Linked DNA regions of Homo sapiens: all the other regions are linked to region 2. The links come from fine-mapping of genetic effects on gene expression. A gene starts in region 2. Each other region holds a variant in brackets. All regions are shown on one strand. Distances are between the middles of the regions. Region 1 has its middle 130 kb from the start of SLC8A1. Region 2 holds the start of SLC8A1 (solute carrier family 8 member A1). Region 3 overlaps SLC8A1 (solute carrier family 8 member A1).

Region 1 (7,307 bases), 130 kb before region 2:
CTCCACTATCTAGATGGCATTTGATTTGCCTGTGGTGCATGGGAATTTATTAGCAGAAAACTCTTTACTGTGGTGGTAGTGGCAATGACTGCTATTTTTAAGACAATTAACATTTACTAGATTAATTCTACTCAATCTTCTTTAATTCCAGATGTTGTAAATGAGTGAAATTTCTGCAATTACTCTTATTTTGAAGAAAGTATTAATGTTTGCACCCATGTGTGTGTGGAGCACAGAAGCAAGACAGAAACTAGAATGATTTCATACTTCGTAACGGAGACCTTTGCAACTATGAAAGTTACGTCTCTGCTCCCTAAAAACTACTGCCTACTCTCCCCATTTCAAGAGAAAACTATAGGTACACATCACGTCTTAGAGTTACAGAAATTACAGATATTGATGCGAATTAATAAAAGAAAAAATGTGATTTATCACAGAGGACAGAGCCAACAATCTACTTTTTAAAATAGTGGCAATAGCAATAATATTTTCCTTTATGTCTGTTTGGTGTTTCTTCAGTTTTAAGTATGAATTGTGATGATTAGATCACAAAAATGAAATCTATCCAAATGGCACTGAGATATTTTGGCTGCCCATGCAGAGGAAAGGTGAAACAATTGTGGCTGGTAATGAGTATATTTTAATGGCTTCATACCAAGAAAATCATCTGGCACATAGAAGCCTACCTGGCTGAACTAATATCCTAAGAGAGGAATTATTTTGGAGGAATAGTAATAATATTTATATATTTAGTTTATGTAAAGCTTCTCAGATTTGGTTATCCATCTCTTTTTGGCATTTTGAAGTGTCCTTTGTCATTTTATCATGTAGTACCTATTTTAAATAATAAAAGTACTATTATGTATATCCAGAATTAACTAAGTGTCGGACCTGTATTTGTCATGAGACACACATAATCTCATTGTGGTAGGCAAAATAATGGCCCTGCAGAAATATTCACAACCCAATCCCCAGACCCTGTGAATATGTTACCTTACATGGTGATATGGTTTGGCTGTGTCCTCACCCATATCTCATCTTGGATTTTAACTCCCACAATTCTCATGTGTTGTGGGAGGTGATTGAATTGTGGGGACAAGTGTTTCCTGCACTGTCCTCATGATAGTGAATGAGATCTGATGGTTTTAAAAAATGGGAGTTTCCCTGCATAAGCTCTTTTTTTTTTTTTTTGCCTGCTGCCATCCATGTAAGATGTGACTTGCTCCTCCTTGCCTTCTGCATGATTGTGAGGCCTGCCCAGCCATGTGGAACTGTGAGTCCAGTTAAACTTCTTGCTTTTATAAATTGCCCAATTTCAGGTATGTCTTTATCAGCAGTGTGAAAACAGACTAATATATATGGCAAAGGGGACTTTGCAGATGTGATTAAGATTAAGGAACTTGAGATGGAATGATTATCCTATGTTATCTGGGTGGGGTCACTCTAACCACAAATCCTTTCAAGTAGAGAATCTTTTCTGGTGTTGTAAGAAATCCAGAGGAAGGAAAGTGTAAGGAGGCCTCTATCTACCCTTGCGGGCTTTGAAAATTAAGGATGGGCGGGCAATGATAATAAGCCAAGTAATGTGAGAAGTCTTGAAAACCAGAAAAGAGCAAGAAATCATATTTTACCCATAACCTGTATAAAAGAATGCACTATGCTCACATCTTGATTTTAACTTGGTAAGAGTCTTGTCAGAATACTCATCTATAATACTATAAAATAATAATACATTTGTATTGTTTAAGCCCCCAAGTTTGTGGTAACTTATTGTAGAATCAATGGAAGATCAAGATACTCATGAAATTCCTACAATTTCTTGGCAAGTGTTTAGCATTTTCTTAGTTTTACAGATATCAAAAATGAGGCAAAGAACAATTTATATAATTTGTCAAAGATGACATAAGTAGCCAGTTGCAAATCCAGACTTAGTATCTAGGGTGTTGGTGTTTGATGATTCTTTCAGAATGATGTGATTTTATGTGTGATGCAAAATTAAGTGATATACCATCCTTAAGTCAGAAGAATGGCTAAACTAATCAAGTAAATAATTCAAATATAAATATAATAAGGTTATATCATTTTTGCTGTTCAAACTAATAAAAACAGTTGAGAAAAAAGCTTTAATCACAAACAGTTATCTAGAATAGTCAATACTCATTACAAAAAAATGATATTCTAATGGGTTAATTGGATTTTTAAATTTAAGAATGAAGAATAGATACAATAAAAAGACATTATAGCTAGTATTGGCAAGGAATGGAGAAGTTGGAATCCTTATGCTTTGCTGATGGGAATACAAAATGATGCAGTGTTTTAGAAAACTCTGGGAGTTCCACAGAAGTTATTATAAACATACAATTATCATATGATCCAGCAATTCCACTGTAGACATATATCCAAGAGAATTGAAAGCATCCCATCTACACAAATGTTCACTGTTGCATTATTCATAACAGCCAAAAAGTGGAAACAACCCAAATGTTCAACTGACAAGTGCATAAACAAAATGTGATATATCCATAAAATGGAATATCACTCAACCATAAAAATAAATAAAGTGCTGATTCATGGTGCAACATGGATGAACCTTGACAAAATCATGCTAACTAAAAAAGTCAGACACAAAAGGCTACCTAATATGGGATCCCATGTATATAAAACGTCCAAAGTAAGAAAATACATAGAATATCAATCAGCATTAAATAGCTGCTAGGGGTTGGGGCAGAGAATAGTGTGGAGTGACTGCTCAAGGGTATGGAATTTCTTTTGAGGATGATGAAAATATTCTGGAATTAGTGATGATGGTTTCACAATATTATGAACATACTAAAAATCACTAAAAGATGAGTGTTGTGATATGTACATTGTATCTTAATTAAGAATAAAATAACTGAAGGGATATATTTGGAAATCCAAACAAAAAATACAGATACAGGGAGCTTAAAATTTGGTAATCAAGAGTTTATCACTGATACTTGCTACTGTAGTCTGAATAAATTGTAGTCATCATGTTCATATGTGATATCACATCACTGAGGATATAATAAAGGCCAGACAACCTGAATTCAATTTAGATCATTACAATGTCAATAGAAGAGTTTTAAAATATATTTATGATTTCTAAATATCAGGATATAATTACAAGAAAATTAGACACAAATTGATTTAAGCTACATTTATAAATGCAAATGCATTCACATTTAAGGTTAGTACTTTGTCCTTGTCTGAAACTGTCTTGTTTGACTTGAATATTCTATTGATTTGCTGTCTCAGGGTTTGCTAGCACGCTATATTAAGGCTTTAGTTTCTGAACATCGCTGTTTATCCTAGAAAATCTGCATGCACTATATCACATGAAAATTTAATTGAGGCATATGTTGTATAATAAACGAC[G/A]TTAGCCTGGCATTATACCTAGCAAAATTTGTTCTATTTGCTTACAGAACAATATCTCTATTGACTATACTCATTCATTGTTAATGAGCTTCTTACTAAAGGATACTGGAATAGTTTCCATAATATTCTTAGCAAATAAAATAATGGAATATAAAGAAACTTAGGAGACTGAATTTTCTATCAAGTTCCCAGAAGTATTACTTCAGTATTTACATATAAAGTCACTCTATTTTTGGATGCTGGGTCCTCCCGTTAAAAACCAGAGGAATCATGCCAACATGCCCACCGCACATGCATCATCAGCAAGACTATCAGCAGAGGGAAGACCCACAAGAAATAACAGGGCAGTCCAGGCCAGGAACTGTGCAGACACTCAAGCTTTCTAGAGAACGGGTTTGAGGAATTGTCTTTTTTCTATAGACTGTTGAAACATATCAGAAACATCTGAGGAGTTTAAATGTAATCTATAGCAATCCCCCTCTCACCCTTAATAACTGCAAAGTTACCTTCAAATTTAGGGCTTTGACTACCTATAAAGGTTGCTTATTTTGGTTTTGAGGACACTGACAGTATTCCACAAGTTTACCTTATTCTGTAGCCCCCAAAGTATAAATTCCAGGTTTTTTGCTTGGTACCTGCTTGTCTTTCAGGAGCTTTCATTCAGTAATTCAATAAAAACCTTTCATTCTAGGTGTGAAGCAATTAGAAAAATATACCAAGGCCTGGAACTCTCTTATTTGACTTCTGGCCCTGACTCAAATTTAAAGGGACACTGAATTCAATTTTGAAAGATGAGTAGTCAGATATAGGGGTGGATCTGTGAAGACCATTCCTGAAGGAGAAGAAGTACAACAGGAAGGTTGAAAATCATTTGGATATATGGTGGCTTGAGGGATTATTTTCCTTGTACTACTCCACTTTCTTTATCTTCTCTGCTCTGCGCCCCAGAGCTACCTTTGGACTACCTAAAGGATTGTCTCAACCAGTCTTGTTGCCTTCTAGTTTCCAAATGGACTCTGCCAATGAGAAATATGATGGAGATTGAAAGAACAGAGAACAGTTGGGTCAGGCTACTTATTCTCTACTCCCCAACTCCCTCCCTGCTGAAACACGGGTTATAGCTGTGAACTTCTACTGAAAATCTCCAGTTGGCTATCCTCTTCTTCTTTGTCAGCTCCAACTATAACTTCTCCTGACAGACTGTGGAGAGAAAAGATAAAGAGTTTGACAAGGACCAGATCACAAAGGGACATAAATGTCATGGTAAGAAGTTGTTTTTCATATAATTTCATTTATGCATGAAATATCCTGTACTTCCTTCTTTCCCATTAATTAATTTGTCCCAGCACCAAACCCACACTGTTTTAATTCCTGCAGCATTACTTTATGCTTTGACATTTATTAATCATCATATGGGTTTTCAAATTTTCTGGGTTATTTTTATCCAAATTCTTTTGGAATCAACTTTAGAATTTGTTTATTCTATTTAAAAAGAAAAAAAGCCAGTTGGGAATTTGAACCTTCTTTTATATATTTTAGTAAGTTAAAAGAGTTTCCTTCTTATGACTTATCCAATTTAGGCAGGACTGTAATCAACTGCAATGACTATGGTCAGGGATCTGTCTTTCCATCTCTGATGTCTGGTTTCTTCTCACTGGGCTCCTTCCTGCTTCTCAGTCAGCATCTTCCTACACAGGATCAAGACGGCTATAAGCAGTTTGAAGATTCTGTTACAAACATGCAACTGTTCTGAAATGGGTGTATTCCTTTGTTCTAATAGTTTCCAAAATTTTCTGTAAGGGTTTCATTTGCCCTACATGAGTAACATACCCAACCCTGAGCTAATCTCGGTCACCAGTGAGATAGAATGTCTTGACTGGTCAAGCCCAAACCTGAGTCCACCACAGCAGGTTGAGTTATCTCTACCTGAATCATGGAAAATAGGGTCGTTCTGAAGATCAAATCCAGATGCTGTTATCAAAATCAGAATATATTGATTTAGGTAGTCAAAAACAGAAAATGTCCACTACATACACCACAATATCTTATTGTTCCTTATTTCTTTTATGTATCTCCTTTCTCATCTTAGATTAAACTTTATTTGTGACATATATATGTTTTCCTTTAGCAGTTTGACACTTTACATCGTATTTTCACCATTCCAGTGGATAGCCCTTCAAAATGGTCATTTAGTAACATTACTTGACTGACCAGAATCCGAACCCCCATCAAAGGGATTTTCACACTCTGTTAGTCTTCGTGGAATCCAAAAAGCTAAATGTTTGTTCTCTCTATTCCCTGGCACCTAGAAGCAGGCAAGTATCAGATTCAACCGATGATATACTTTTGCCTGAGACATTGAATAAGTGACAAGGAACAGTGATGTTAAGAATAGATTATAGTTCATTCTGTCAGTCGATTGTGGAATATGGCATCCAATGGCATCAGGAGCAAGAATGGCCTCCTATGTCTATTTATAGGATCAACAACAGCACGCTAAGTAGATAAGTTCTGTGGTACAACAGTGACTTTGTTTCTGGATAAACACCTTCTCTTCATTCCTGCCTATTTCCTGAGCCCTACCTAGTCTTCAGCCTTCTCCTGGAGATACGTAATATCCTTCAACTAAATCAATTTTTCTGCTGAATGTAGCAATCATCAATTTATGAGGCTTCAACCCCGGACCCCGCCTAATAAAACGTTAAAACTTTGTACACATTTTAAATATATTTTAATTGCATAGAATCACTGGATATAAATATGCAGATAAATATATGATTCATTTGAGTAAGTATCCAAGGGGTGCTGTAAGAAGAAGTAGGAATCTGTAGGTATTATGTTAATTTATATCTAGAAAGAAAAATTATAGAACCAATTCACTAACTTTTTTAAATTTAGAAAATTATTCACACAAAAAAGAATATATACTATACAGTGAAATAATTTTTAAAACTCAAAATATTCCAAAGAAGATCAGTGAAATCAGCACAATATATACAAATGCACATATAAAAAGGAGACAGTGTTTATTTTAATAAATGAGTATAGCTATTATAGCAGAAGTTAGTATAACAATCTAATGAAAAACCTTAGGTTTAATTAGGAAAAATAAATATAAATAATAAATATGAGAAATATTGATCCTAAATCCACTAAAATATAACAATATATTATGAACAACTTTATGCCTACACATTAAGGAAGTTAGATAAAATTTGTAAGGTACACCAGAAACATAACAAAATGACACAAGGAGAAACTGAAAAATTGAATAAACTCATAACTAATAATGAAATGTCATTACTAATTAAAGATTTTCTTCAATGAAAATTCGATGCCAATATAGCATTACCAGTAAATTACCTTAAATGTTTAAGGAAGAAATACTAATCTTACATGAATTCTTCCAGAAAAAAAGAAAAAATATTACCCAATTTATTTCATGTGGTCAAAATAATTTTGATGCCAAAAATTGAAAAAAGATATATAGACTAATGTCTCATGAAAATAAATGTAAAAAACATTAAAAATTTAAAAACTAAAAACTGTAACAAACTCTTATTAGAATATATTAAAAATAAAAATACATCATGATCAAGGTGGGTTTATACTTGGAATGCAAGGCTAGTTTAACAACCAAATCAATCAGTATAACCATTAAAAAAACATAAAAAAGAGAAAAATTATGTTAACATTTTAATATAGGTAAAAAAATAATTGATACAACTCAACTCTAATGCATGAAAGCTAGGATAAAGAAGAATGTCCAGATATCTTATAAAAGAAATTGAAAAAAATACTTGTAGCATATCAGCTTGAGCTACTATAACAAAATACCATAGACTGAGTGGCTTAAGCCATAAACATTTATTTCTCACAGTTCTGGAGTTTGCAAAGTCCAGGAACATGAT
Region 2 (7,307 bases):
TCTAGATAATGATTCTGCCATTGAGTTACCATTGATAAAGTTGCAGGACAGAGACTAGATATTTCCTTAATTTAATAAGGGGCAGAAATGAAAAACAGAAGTCTCAGAATTTTGTACAAACCCAATTCTTTTTTTTTTTTTTTTTTTTTTTTGAGACGGAGTCTCGCTCTGTCCACCCAGGCTGGAGTGCAGTGGTGTGATCTCTGCTCACTGCAAGCTCCGCCTCCTGGGTTCACGCCATTCTCCTGCCTCAGCCTCCCAAGTAGCTGGGACTACAGGTGCCCGCCACCACGCCCGGCTAATTTTTTGTATTTTTAGTAGAGACGGGATTTCACCATGTTAGCCAGGATGGTCTCGATCTCCTGACCTCGTGATCCACCCGCCTCAACCTCCCAAAGTGCTGGGATTACAGGCGTGAGCCACCGCGCCCAGCCCAAACCCAATTCTTTAATATCAGTTGCTCAAATGTAGAATTGCAGGTCCCTGATGTCCAAAGACTGTGACAAATTCATTGGCGACTCAGAGGAAGTGGTTGACCCCACGGTAATGCAGAGAGGAGGAGAGTTGTGACTGTGAGTCTGCCAGGAAGGCTGCCCCAGTCTGTGGACTGTTGTGCAGTAGCAGGGTTTACAACTGGGTGAGGTACAAGAGTGGTGTTCAGTTGGTCAAAACAAAACAGAGAAGTAAAAGTTTAACTGCAGGAACAAGTCTCCAGGGAAGAGGAACAACAGCACTTAGAAGTCAACAAAGAATTCTCAAAGTCATCCCCAAAGCAAAGAACCCTGGATCTACTCATCAGCAAAGAAAACCTAAAGAACAAAACTGGGAACCCAATGGTTCACCTGAGATTCTTAGGTATGGAAAAATGGCTAATTCTAAGCTCCACTCACTGGCCAGGCTAGGGGCTATTATGTAATAACATTTTCTTATGTAGAAATCACTATGAAACTGAGCCTGTGACTGAACAGATAGGTGATTAGTGAAGGCTGGCAGAGTAAGAAATGAGGTGAGGGACGACTAAGACTGTATTAACATATTTCAGAAGCCCGAAGCAATGGAAGAGACAATAGAGGTACCTCTGATTTATGTAATTCAAAGTAAAAATGAAAGGAATTTAAACAGAGTATTGTGCTTGTTTTCCCTATGATGAAAACATATTGAGTGCTTTAGTAAAGTATTAAATATTTTTAAAAATCTTGGTAACCTGATCACATGTCTAAATTTTCTATAGACTAGATAAAAAGTAGGGCCTAATTCACAATATTTACACTTGGTCTGAAAATGAGTTTGCTAACAGATCCCCTGAAGGTTTCCTAGGAAATAGTTTGTGAACATCAGAACATCTTTCGAATATATCAAATCTTAGTGATATCCCTGTGGAGTCCCCTGAATGGTTGTGTCGTATTGCTTTGGTTAGATAACAGTGGAGACCCGGTGACTCTTAATTCCAAGTCCAGAGGAAAGAATGGCAATCAATATGGAAGACTGCAATTAAGAAACATTACTGCTATTAGAATGTAAATTACCACCTTCCTCCATTCAACATGTCTTCTTTCCAAAGCCACAGACTGCAGCAGCCTCACTTTTTCCTTTCTTAGAGCCATAGTCTTCCTCAGCCTTGTGCCTGTGATGCAGCCTTTGATAATTCTCGCAATAAAAACTCACTCATGTATGACATTTAGGAGGGAGCAAAAGGTTTGATTTGCCTTGGGGCCCTGGAACCATTATAAAAATGCCTTTAAAGAGAAATGAAAGGCAAAGAAAATTAGGGGCTCAGAAACTGACTGAACCAAAAAGGATGCCAAATCACTAGGCACTAGGCTGCCTCTCCAATAGTTCTAGATAAACAGAAGACCATTTAATATTGTTTTTTTCCCAAGAATCCAAATCAGTCTAAAAGCAGTTTCGATTGGAAAAGAGGAAGAATCAAGTGGCCAAGATGTAGCCTTTCAGTTTCAATGGTCAAAGCAAAAAAAAAAAAAAAAAAAGTCTTAAGACAGACTTTGGGCATCACTGGAGTATAAACATTTAAAGAACAGGGTTCTTGTCACTCCATGTCACAAACATGCCTAAAATTTCAAGAAAATCTCAGCTTTCACTAAGCGGCCCGTCATAGCAATAAGAGGCTACACTCTTTCCACAAAATCTATTCCAGTGAAATATGGCCCACTCACATTTTCATTTAGCTTTCTCTTGGTTCCTTCATTTGGCTGTGTTCTATTTCCTATTGAGTGGAGTCTTTAGTTATAAGCTTTCCTTAGTGTTATTTAGAAGGCAGCCACTTTTCTCTCCAAGCCCCTTTCATTGAGTGTGAGCCAAATATCTGCTACTCACACTGCCTTAAATTCAGGGACTCTAAGTAATTTTTGGTAGAGGACATATTCTAAAAGAGACAGTGACCTTCTGTCTCTCCCCACAGGTCATTCTGTTTATATCCACTAGTAAGTGTAGTCTAACCAAGTTGGTGTGGAAAGTAGCTTCCAAGAAAATTTAACTTATAGCAAGGAAAGAAAAATGTTCTTAGGCAAGAACGATTCCTGCAAATTTTATAAGACGTGAAGCAGCTTAGAGTGTCCTCTACAAAGCCAGTATCCAAGACTGCTGGCAACAGACCCGACTAATTAAAGTGAGGTCCTCATTCAGACGGCCTCAGCATCACTTCAACACTTGCCTACCCCAGGCCTGCTCCAGGTCTATTGAAAAAGAATCTGCAATCCCCATGTGATTCATACTCACATTCATGTTTGAGGAGTATTGGCCTAGAGCAGTGGTTCTCAACCTTCATTGCACATAGGAATCAACCAGGCATCTTAAAAACAAATTAAGGCTGTCTGGGGCCCACCTGCAGAGAGTCAAAGTTAATCAGTTTGGGGGTGTGGCCTAAGCACTGGGATTTTTAAAAACGGCCCAGGAGATTCTGAGGTGCAAGGAGGGTTGAGAGCCACTGGCACAGGGGCAGAAGAGGCTATTTCTTCCATTCCGCCCCCTCTTTGTTGCGGAGGCAAACTGAGGTTCCTGGAGTCAGAATCTATCAGTCGTGGTGACTGCCCTGGTTGCACTGTAAGTATGGGGGGACGTCTCCACGAAAAAAAACTAACTTTCTGCCTTGTGCTCTGCAGGTCCCTCCTTCTCCCACCTTCCCCAAGTAGCTGCTCCTGACCCCCCCACACACCTTGGCAAACGACACCAGTGGCCGATAGCAACTGGTGTTTTAAAAATACTAATTTGGAGCCCCATTTGAGACCTACAACGGGAGAGTCTGCATCAGATTCGGCCTCAGATTCTACAGCATCTGACTACATTCCCAGGTGTGTGTGATGCGCAGCCAGGTTTGGAAGCTAGTGAACTCCACAGTAGGTCTAGCCTTTCACCACGTGAAGTCATTAAGGGTTTGTAAGAATGAATGAGCTGTCAAGAGAGGAAAGGCCTGGTGCAGTGTTCCTTTATTAATTATGAGGAAAGTGATTTATTGGCAATGATAATGCTTCTCTTGGAAAGGGCAAAGAATGGTTCGTCGATTGCTGCATTAGGTTTTTTCCCACTCAACCTTAATGCTCGGCTTTTACTCCTCACTGTAGTTTAAAACCAGCACGCCTTTCACACGAAACAGACTCTGGGTCTTTATTCCCAGGTGAAACGCATCTTTGAGGGAAATACCAACACAGAGACTCTGTCCCAGTTCTTGGCCGGGGGACACCCTCCCCCGAATATCTCTGTTTGCTTGTGTCAGCATCTAGTAGCCAACGTATAGTTGTGCATATCTGATACGTAGAAAAACACAGGGTGAGGATTAAAAAAAAAATCATTGATATATGCCCAGATCCTTTTGCTAAAAGAAAGCTTCCTTTAGCAGAAGGGCAGGAAGTGAGGGAAGAAAGATAGTTGGATTAACAAAGTCAGAGGTGAGAAACGGGTAGGCGAATTGGGGGTCAGGGTTCTGTCTGCGGAAGAGAAGAAGAGGGTTCAAAAGAAAAGTTGCAGCGCCTGTGTGCGCGTGTCATCGATGGGCTGGGTGCGAGAGACAGCGCTAGCGCGCGGCCACAACGCACTGCGGGGCCGAGAGCCGGCAGGAAATCGAAAAAGCTGCTCGCCGGCAGAGGCTGGGAGGCTGGAAGGGCTCCCCACCCGCTCGGTGCTCCAGAAACGCGCCGGCTTTGCCCCGACGCGATCGCCTGGGGAGCCCAAGGGGCGCGCAGGGGGCCCCGGGGCGCCCGGCAGCCGCGGGGCCGAGCGCGCGTGTGAGCGAGTGCGAGGCTGCGGGCGGCGGGCGGGCGAGTGTGCGCGGGAGGGAGGGGGAGCGCGCGCGCGCCCGGGCCCCGGCCCTCCCAGCCTCCCGGCCTCCGCGCCTGCCTCCCGCCCGCGCGCACCGCTGCCCGCTGCCGCGGCTCCCGCTCGCGCCGGCGCTGCACGGTAGTCAGCCCGCCGCCGCCGCCTGCTTTGTGCTTCCCACAGAAGATGGGAGCGACCTCTTCCTGATCGGGAGCTGTTTAAAAGGAGGGAGTGCGCCGTATTTTCTACTAGCGTGGAGGAACGGAGGAAGAATCCATTCACACTCCCCAAACCAGGTAGGATCTTATGATGGACAGGCAGAAGGCATTTAGTCAGAGACCAAGAACTATTTTCCATTTGCTGCTCATAAGGCTACACTTCCCTCTGCTTTGGCAAACGAGCGGCTTCTAAATTTGTGTGTGTGTGTGTGTGTGTGTGTGTGTGTGTGTGTGTGTGTGTGTGATGTGGTGTGTGCGCGCCTGCACATTTTTCTGGGTGTCCGCGCTTCCCAGAGTGAAATTGCTCGGGCTGGTGCGTCTGGGCGTGAGGGTGCCTGCCTGCCTGCCAGTGCAGGCTGCCGGAGGAAGAAAGGGCTGCTAAGGAGAGATGCTGCACCCTGCACCGCGCTGGGCTCTGAGGATTCAGGGCGCGAAGAGCTAAGTCCACCCCGAATGCAGAGCTGCTGGGGATCCAGGCGTCCCCACCCACTGGACTCTTCTCCGCGGACATCCCTCCTTCCGGTAATCCCTGGGGTCTTTCCCCAAGGCCACATTTCCGAGCCCCCTGTTTTCCAGCGGGCGTTGGGTGCTCATTCACCACGGACTGCGGAGAGGAGGGAGGTGTGGCGGGGCAGAGACAGACGAGGAAGAAATGTAGGGGGTAGCAGGGAGTGGGCTGCGGGGTCCACGTCTCTGGGCACTGTGCCGTGGTGTGCTTTGGGGATTCTGCACACACAGGCATCTTTCCCCAAGAGATTGGAAGGGAACTTTGCAGCTGCATTCTCTGCCTCTGGAGCTTTGCTGGCTCTTGGGGGAAATGGTCTGTGTTCTGAGATGTGAAGATATCCTTTTTGGCTCCTCCTTAATGAAGAAGAGGGCGGTCTTATAGCTGGACAGCCGGCCAAAGAAACCAAATCCGCCCAGGCGATGCTCTTGAAAATACAGTACGTGTGCATCCTTGATTCTTTAAATCCACCCCCTGCATCACCCCCGCCTCTTCTCTATCCCCCCCACCACCCCGTGGATTCTGTTGCTGTTTGATGAATGGCTTGGGCTGGCAATTTGTATTTCCCTCTCCAAAGTGGTAGTGGTTGAGTTGAGAACAGGGGTGATGAAATTTAACAAAGCATTTTTAGAAGAGAGCAATGTGCATGTTGTACGCAGTCATTGGAAAGTCATGCTTTGCGCTAGGTATCCTTTTGAAGCCCCCGAACCTGGCTCTCCTGAAGCCGCTCTCTCTCTCTCCTGCTAGTCAGCTACTAGTGGTTGTGAATATAACAATACAAACTTTGTCCTGCTGGAGGTGTAAAGACTAAAAAGAGAAAAAAAGGATATCAGTGGGAGGTGTAGTGGAAGAAGCTTTTTAAAAAATGACAGATGTGGTGAAGACAGTACAAGCGTCCTGATCATGGAGGAGCCTCTAGCTGAGTAGGTGGAGATTTCTGATCAGATCTGGTTAAAGGCATTGCTGGAGTATCTCCAGATATGAGCAGTTGAACATGCACAATCTGAGACTTGTGCGAAGATTTCCCAAGGGAAAGAGGGAGCCACCAGGAGAGAATTCTGAAAGTATACCTCTCTTTCCCATGCCCCCACCAGCGCGCGCGCGTGCACACACACACACACACACTCACATGCTTTCTCTTTCTCTCTCAAAGCTACTCCTGCAGCGAGTCAGAAAAAAAAAGGAAAATGAATCTAGATGTTTCATTCATTTCAAATAAGAAGACAAAGCCGGAAGAGGGATGATTGGTTTTAGGTTCCTCTTTCAAATCCTGTGTTACTTGGATTGAGCTCCCTGGGTTTGCTAAACTTGCTTAATTGGGAGGTTAGGCGGGTGTGAAAGCAGGAGGAAGGAAGGGAAAACTAGCTCCATCTTTGGGGCCTTGTGAGTGAGAAGGTGGGGGAGGACCAACTTATTTCATCAAGAGGCAAGATGTGTGCTCTTAAATGGTTTTCGTTTTACAAATTCTGCCTGCTTGAAGAATTCCATTTGGATCTCACGGCTCTTTAGCTAAGATTTCTCACACCTGCTATAAAAGAAGCCCTGATTTTGTCCCCTTAAAATGGTTGTTGTCTTTTTTTAAAAAAATGATTAATTCCTAGAAAAACAACAGCAACAAAAAGGACTGAACAGAGATAAACCATTATTTATTGTTGAGCTGTATAGGGCTACAAAGGATGTAAGAGTGTCATGATAATCAGACTTTACTGTCTTGAAAGCTTAACAGGGCTGAAGGAGGAGAGTAATGAACTAAAATATGAAGGCTTATTTTCTATGTATCTATCTACCTATGTCTTTACTTTAATATTATTATATAGTGGTTCCTACTGTAACGTTTCAGATTAAGCACATAGCCCTTTTGTTGACCAGGGGAAGAAAAGAGCATGGGAGTAACAGTGCTTTGACTCCCAATAAAATTACAAATGGAAAGTGAGGTATAGTCAGTAACATCTATAGGACTATTTGCAGGAATTATGTTAATTGCTCTGTTAAGCTTTCTGTGTTTTGAAAAAATAAAATATATTCCAAGAGAACTTCAGCATCTGTTAAAAAGCTATGTTTAACATGCTTTTGCCAGGCAAATATAGACTTTTATTTACTTGCAAAATAAACACATGATTCCTCTTAGTATTCAATCTATTTCTTTGACAAAATAAATGATGAGAAAAGCTGTGCAGATCCAAGGAAGTTGCAATTCCCCTTTAAAAAGCCAGCCAAGGCATTCATTTAGCTCATAGATGTGGTTGTCTCAAAGTAAGTGCATTTTGGGACATTAATGTCTGTGTGTTTTTTTTTGTTGTTGTTTTTTGTTTTTT
Region 3 (7,307 bases), 58 kb after region 2:
TCATATTGACTATTCTATGATTGCATTTTTATAAAAATAAAATATGTACGTAGGAAATTTATTTGAAAATTGTGTTAGTGGGTCACCTTAATGGTATGATAGTGGATATTATTTTCTTCTTTCTGTTTATCCACATATTCTGCTTTTTATAATGAAATTGTATTGCTATTGTAATTCTTTAAGTTACTTAAAATTTAACTACATACAGTAGAAAAACAAATATACCACCAATAACCAGGAACAAGACAGTACCATGACATATGGTGAGGAGTGGATCTAGATATGATACACGCGTTAGTAACATAGGTCAAAAGACTCTGCTGGTAGTGCTGAGAGACTCCTCTAAAAAGCCAGCCAAACTGGAGGCCAGATCAGCAAGAGGAATTGAAGAAGCTGACCAAGACTAGGGAGAAGGGACCAAGGCACGTTGTACTTCTCTTGAGCCTGGAATCAGGTTTGCATTGGAAATAAGCTGGAAAAGAAAAAGTGGCTCCATATTTTAAGAGCTAAAAGACTGTGGGTACTTCTGGGTTACTTTCTTTCAATAACTGCAGAAGAAATGCTGTTTCTCCAAGCTGGCACTGGTGTCAAATGAACAGAGGGTCTCCCCATTCTGTTATTTTCCTGGCAGTTGAAACATCCGTTGGCTCAGCTGTTTAATGTGTAAGTTCAGTGTCCCACAGGCCATTCTCCATAAGGCAGCAGCTACCCAACCATGATAAATTTAGTGTCAGGTCTGCATTCAGAGCACACTGTGTCCCACTTTAAGAAATTGCCCTGGGTCATGTAGCTAGTTGTAGAAGTCTGTGCAAATGCTGGTGATTCCCAGGGAAGAAAGATAATATTTTTCTTTGACCTGGATCTCTGTTTCTATTGATTCTCAGAGTGGTTCTCCTGGTGAGAATCCTTTCCACTTCTGAATGCTTTGTGCCACTTGTCTCAGGGTAGGGCCTGAGTATTGTCACATTTATGAAACTATACATATGTGGTTCTGATATGCAGCTAGCATTCAGAAGACTGATCTGGAACGGTCAGGCTCGGCAAATGTATGTGGATACATAGTAATGATAACATGAAAACTTTCAAGTGCGTAGATGGTTTCACACCCACAATCAGTTGACAGTGCTTCTTGTGTTGATTACCCACCTGTGAAAATGGATTTGCAGCAATTCCTCTTCCCTAGTCCTCACTGTGAGCAATGGAAAACTTAGTTGAGATGAGCTTTGACTATGGAATGAGACAAGCCAATTATTCCATGTTGGAACTGCCTCTGAATTTTATTATCTATAATGCTTGTTTTTATCAACTTAGAAAACTGACCTGAAAGTCATAAGCTAAACCATCAATGGGCACATTAGCTCATGACATGTATACACTAGCAGCTGACAGTGGAATACAATTCAGAAAGAGAGAAAAGGAAGGGGTGGAGTCAGACACCTTCTTGGATATCTACTATGTGCCAGGAATTACTTTAAACACTGTGTATCTGTTCTCATTCAATCCCTACAACAATACTTCACCTTTTTTCTGTTCAATAAAATTAACTGATCCACGGATCCACTCTTTGCACAGAGCACTGAAATATTCTCATCAGCAACTTTCAGTTAAGCAATATTTAGACATTACTTTTCCAGGGCCATGGAAATTGCAGATTTAAACCCTGAAACCTGTCAAACCTTGTGCAAAATGACAAAGCCCACCTCCCCTAACACCGTCCTGAACAGTGGATCCCTGTGGACTAGCTAGAAGACCAACCCAAAAAGTCAGGTCATTATCACTGGAATAATTGTCATTGATACAGCAACTACAGTTTCTCTTGCTGGTTTGCTTCTTTAACTTCTCTTGTTTTTTTTTTTTTTTTTTTTTTTTTTTTTAGTTATTAGAGATGATGGAGGTTAAAAGGATGCTGCTTAACAAAGATAAAAGCTCACTTAGACTAGTAATCTTTTTTTCTTTTTAAAGAAACATAGGATTACAGAAATATTTAATGAATTAATAAGGTACTTCTCAACACATTTTTTTCATTGCCAACTAGTTTTTCCAGGTTATGTACATAATTGAAAAAGTGTTGTGTTGCGTGTTATGCTTTGATGCAGTCTTGTTTTGTAATCCATTGCTTTCAAATTTCTATCATCATCTTCTAATTATCTTAAATTTGCACTGTGCTACTAGAATAGAATGATGGTATTATTACTATTATTACTGGCAGCAGAATTGAAACCTGGAGTATAAGTGGTTTGCAGACCATTCATAGATTCATGTAACCGTAGAGATTCATGGTTGAGTAGTTGAGCACCTGACTTCTATGGGAAAAGCAGCGCTCTTCAAGTTACTGCCTAATTAACAAACACACTTCATGGATTGAGGATTTAAAGGGGAAGAATGGTCATGCTTAGTACAATTGAATGCATATTTGCTACTAATTACATATACCTCACATTTTCTCTTAGAGACCAACTGCTTTAAAAATATTTTATTAAATGTTTTTGTTACCCTGACAGAGATACATTCCTTTAAGGGTGTTTTCAGCAAAACATTCAAGTTTTCAGGAAGTATTATCTTTCTTTCCTTTTACCCCTTTCCCATTTCCATGAAATTAAAAGGAAATGCATAGCCAAGTGTTTTTTCCCAGAAGAAAATAATAAGAAATATGCTGATTTTACAGAACAGTATGAACAGTTATAAGGGTCTATGTAAAAGGCAGCGTGTGTTCATTCTCCATGCATACTATTAGTAAAAATGAATGGACTTTCTCCTCATCTGTTTTTATTTAGAGCAGGACCTTCTTGCATTGAATTTCCTGTGTCAGCTGTGTTCTAATTCTGTAAAGCCTTTGGTTAAGGAACAGCTCTGACTCTATATCCCTATCTTTTCCTTTCCCATGTCTTAATTTTGAGTTCTTATCACTCTGATAATAAGCAGACATTTCTGAAAATCAGAAATCCTGCAGTTCCACTTTAGTTTTTCTTTCTCTTCCACTACCTTTCCTCTCTTAGAACAGTAAATATGTCAGATGGGAACCTAAAGTCAACCTCTGTGCTGTCTTGCTCTGACTTAAATGCTCTCATCCAAGTAGGTGGCATTTCTCATGAGGGGCCAGACAGAGTTATGGAACACCACAAGCAGGGTAGCCTTCGGATTTGACTTGAGAAATTAGGAAGAATCTGGTGGTCCTGACTAAGAGTGCCAGTGATAAAAATCCAGGTGAGCACAGACCATTGTCATAAGAGGGGCCTGCACACAGTTCTAGATAGGTATGTTTACAGGAATTCGTGGTCTGAATAGCAGGGCTAGATCAGATTTGAGATCTGATTTACCTAATACTAGAAAGAATGTAGTCAGTCAGGAGACTCAGGCCGGACTTTTTATTTGATAAAGAAATGAAACTGTTGATGTTGGTTTCTTCAGTAGGATTTCTCTACTTCTTTTAGACTTCTCAAAAGGTTTTTGTTTCTTTAGTTGTTGCTTTTGTTGTTGTTCCCCTACCCTCAGAAGTAAGTAGATTAAGGTAAACTTTTGTCTTAAAGAGCACTGTCTAGTTAGTCCCTGTTTTCTGGACATCAGTGGTCTGTTAAATCTATAATCAGTAGGTGAATTTGTTTACACAGACATGAGCATTTGTGCACATCTTTTGTGGGACTTTGCAGAAAAGAAGAGAGATGTTACCTCCTCAGCTCCAGAATCTTTTACTTCAGTGTCTCATTTCCTCTCTGGGATTGGGGTAGAGTTCTTGGCACAGAAGATGCTAACAACTGACTTTCTGGGAGTCTTTGCACAAATGACAACTTCTGTGGCCTTCAACTTCCCCAAGCTAGCATGATGGGTAGATTAATATGTTCCTTTTTGGCAGGAATGGGAACTAATTTTTTTTTAAAGAAGGAGGAAAAAACACGTTGTGCTAAATCAGTGATTACTATGGCAACAGGCACTCTATACATGTTAGAAAAAAAGAAGAAAAATGCAATCACAGTTCTCTAAAGAGGAAGATAGCAGAAATAGGTTCACAAACTTTATTTTCAAAAATCAATAAATATGTAGTAGGCATCCACTATATGCTCTGTATAATCTTATCGAAATGTCTAACAGAAACTTGATGATAAAACCAAATCTGCCATTTGCTTGCTACCGCTCTGTTTCAGAAATTCACTCACACACCACACACACACGCACACACACACACTAACAGAAAAACCACAAAGAAATAGTATATACCATATTTTAAATAAAATAGTTAAATTTCAGTGCCCTGATGAATCCACGTTAGAAAAAGCAAATATCTTACTAGCTTATTGGGCAGAAATACCCAAGTTAGAACAAATTACTCTCCCTAGAATGGCTGTATTCACCCCCCACCCCACAAAATGCAGGTGTTTGCGTAACATGTTGCAACCGTGTTGGACACATAGTTCTTAATGTTAGTGCAGGGTTTCT[C/G]AACTTAAGCTCACTTAGACTAGTAACCTTTTTTTAAGCTCCGTTGACATTTTAGCCCAGGTCATTCTTCTTTGTGGGGGGCTGTCCTGTGCACTACTGTAGGATGTTTAGCAGCATTCCTGAGCCCTACACAAAATGTCAGTAGCATCCCCCAGACTGCCACAAGCAAAACTGTCTTCAGTCATTGACACATGTCACCTAAGGGGCAAGTCACCACTGGTTTAGAGCTACTGGTTTCAAGTAACCCAGCTGTGTTCTCAGGGCTTGTGGTGGGGTATTTGAAATAACCCATTGCCATGAAAAGGGTAATAGGCATAAAAATAAAAGCTGAACTTTATAATATTTTGGTTGATTGGGTGATTTAGGTTATGACTATTAGTGATTTTGCCAGTTTGGCTCTTTTATGACAGATCCTGTTATATAAATAAAATCACTAATTTTCCAACTGTAGTATCTAATTGTTACAAGCTGAATTTTGGCAAATCAAATGACACAAGGATAATATTCCAATTCTTTATTTTTTCACATTACACAGTTATCCCCCTAATTAGTTTTGCTGGGAGCACCCTCATATGGGTTTATATGGAATTGGAAACAATGTTGGTAAATTAGAGAGTACATTCAAAATTATGACTACACAGTGGAAATAAGAATGTAATAATCTTTTACAGCAAAGGCTGTACAGATTGTTTTAAAGGATTAAAGAAACAGTGAACTAAGGGATGACAGAAAATCATTTGGAACATAGCAATTCCACCCTTGAACCTGTAAATATCACATTATAAATTTTATATGTGAGATTTTCATTGTATTATACTACCAGATAAAGCAACCATAAACATAGATTGCTAAGTTTCTTAATGCACATGCTTTGAGAAATGACCTCAAAGCACAACTGGATAGCTGTTGGGATTTTTTTCCTAAGTAATACAGAGCTGTGAGGTTTGAAGTGTGTTCTAATCATTGTACTTTCGGAATTTTCAGAAAAAAATAGAGGTGATGCTAACTTGTATGTTTTGGATTTTGTAACTTTGTTCTTGACATGTTATAACTCTGTAAAACGGAGCTATAAAATAGATTAGACAGTTTACATATTTTTTAAAATCTGAATGAGTTCATATAGTTCAGCTAAAGATGAAACACTGATAAAATTCAGTCAGTATCACTATTGATTTGACAACATTTCTCCTGCTCCTCTTTTGTCTGCTGACTCCTGCCAGCAAAATAAAGTAGATTTACTAGTACACTATAATCTTTAGAGTTCTTACAAGGCACAAACAGTAAGTATTTAACTCTATGCAGGGTAAGAAGAAGTGAAGTGAGTAAAAAGTAGTGTAATCTGTCCCACTTTAACGTAAACATTAATGTAAATATTAATGCTGAAAGCCCTCCTTTGCTCCACAAATCATAACCATGATTTTTTATTGTCCTCTTCTCCGTTTTCTTTTTTCCGGTACTGTGATCATTGGCATTTCATTACTAACAAACAAGAGGGAATGTGAAGAAGGCAATTTAAAGGTTATATCAAGGAATACAAAATCTTGGAAGGCTGTGGAACTTTCAAAGATATTTTTAGTAAAAGCACACAGCAAATTGGTAGATCTTCAGCAATTAGCACTTACCCATGACAATTGATACCAGCCTGTTATGTCAAGCTGCTTGTGATACCACATAGTATTACTAAGATGCATAGGATGATTTCATTTTGCCCACTTTCATCAATAAATGAGCCTAAATATTTATGTTTCCTAAACTTCCCAAGATATTTCTCTTCCTTTCTTGAAAATCTTTAGGAATAGAGGAAGTTCCTAGCTATTGGTTCTCTGTTGAGTAATGCCTAGTGGGAACGGGTAGATAAGATGGCCTCTTGAGATTTACTCTTATTTAAATGTGATGATAAAGATCTTTAGGTTTTCTTGCTTGCTTGCTTGCTTGCTTGCTTGCTTCCTTTCTCTTTCTTTTTCTTTCTCTTTTCTTTTTCTTTTTCTTTTCTTTCTTTTTTCTTTTCTTTCTTCCTCTCTTCCTTTCTTTTTTCTTTCTTTTATTTTTCATTCTTCCGTTGGTTCATTTGTTCACTCTTTGTTCATTCTCGCTTTCTTTTTTATTTTTCTCCTTCCTTCCTTCTCCTTCCTTCTTATTTTGTTTGTTTGTTTGTTTTTTTAAGAGAAGGCAACCAGCATTTTGCTGTTTCCACTTAAGGACTGAATGAGAAGAAATAAGTCAAATTTGATCATCGATACTTTGTATTTATGCAGAACTAAACAATTCTAGTGACAAAGGACATTTAGTCAGTGGGGCGATATTGGTAGAAATGAAGCCTAGTGACATGAGGCTGAGGGCTCTGCCTGAAAATGTGGAACTTTGGGTTTTGGTCTTTGCGTGATGTGGTTAACACTTTTTGTCTACCTGATTTATTTTGTCATCTGACACGTGAAGGTATTTGGTTTCAGTGCCCCCTAAATTTTCCCTCAGGTTCTATAATTTGAGGGTCTGGGACTAAGAGTTCCAAGTTGTGGATATGGAAGCAGAATGATTGCTCCAGGGGCTCTTCTAGTCTCAGAAGACTTTGAAGTAAAGACTCTAGGAAAGAAAGAGCATGAAAGTCATAATGCTCTTATAAATTTTTAGGGATTTACAGGAGAAGTATTTATGGTTCCTGTCAAATTCCTTATGGCTCTATGATTACTTCACATTGAATGGAGGGAGAGAAATTCAGCTGTAATCTCCTAGTTTGCCACCAGCCAGAACAATTGGATTTTCTTCAAATAGGAGATTAGAGCTTCCAGAAAGTATTTCTAGTTCCATATGCTGCTTTCTTTTAAAAGGACACTTATTCCTATTTATTCAAATCCCTTTATGTCCCACGAACATCACTT

What was found.
Region 1: its variant is fine-mapped to the expression of SLC8A1 in whole blood (INTERVAL, PIP 0.97).
Region 3: its variant is fine-mapped to the expression of SLC8A1 in whole blood (TOPMed, PIP 0.91).

What each region holds. Positions count from the first base shown.
Region 1 is chr2:40,574,904-40,582,210 of GRCh38, reverse strand. No RefSeq gene overlaps it. Among named protein-coding and RNA genes, the nearest start is that of SLC8A1, 130 kb to the right of the region's middle. The variant G/A (reference allele first, on the strand shown) is at 3,397.
Region 2 is chr2:40,449,162-40,456,468 of GRCh38, reverse strand. SLC8A1 (solute carrier family 8 member A1) reads left to right here and starts at 4,379. Exons shown (of 11, transcript NM_021097.5): 1 at 4,379-4,565.
Region 3 is chr2:40,391,316-40,398,622 of GRCh38, reverse strand. All of the region lies in intron 2 of SLC8A1 (solute carrier family 8 member A1), which reads left to right. It also overlaps the pseudogene LOC124905995. Among named protein-coding and RNA genes, the nearest start is that of SLC8A1, 57 kb to the left of the region's middle. The variant C/G (reference allele first, on the strand shown) is at 4,432.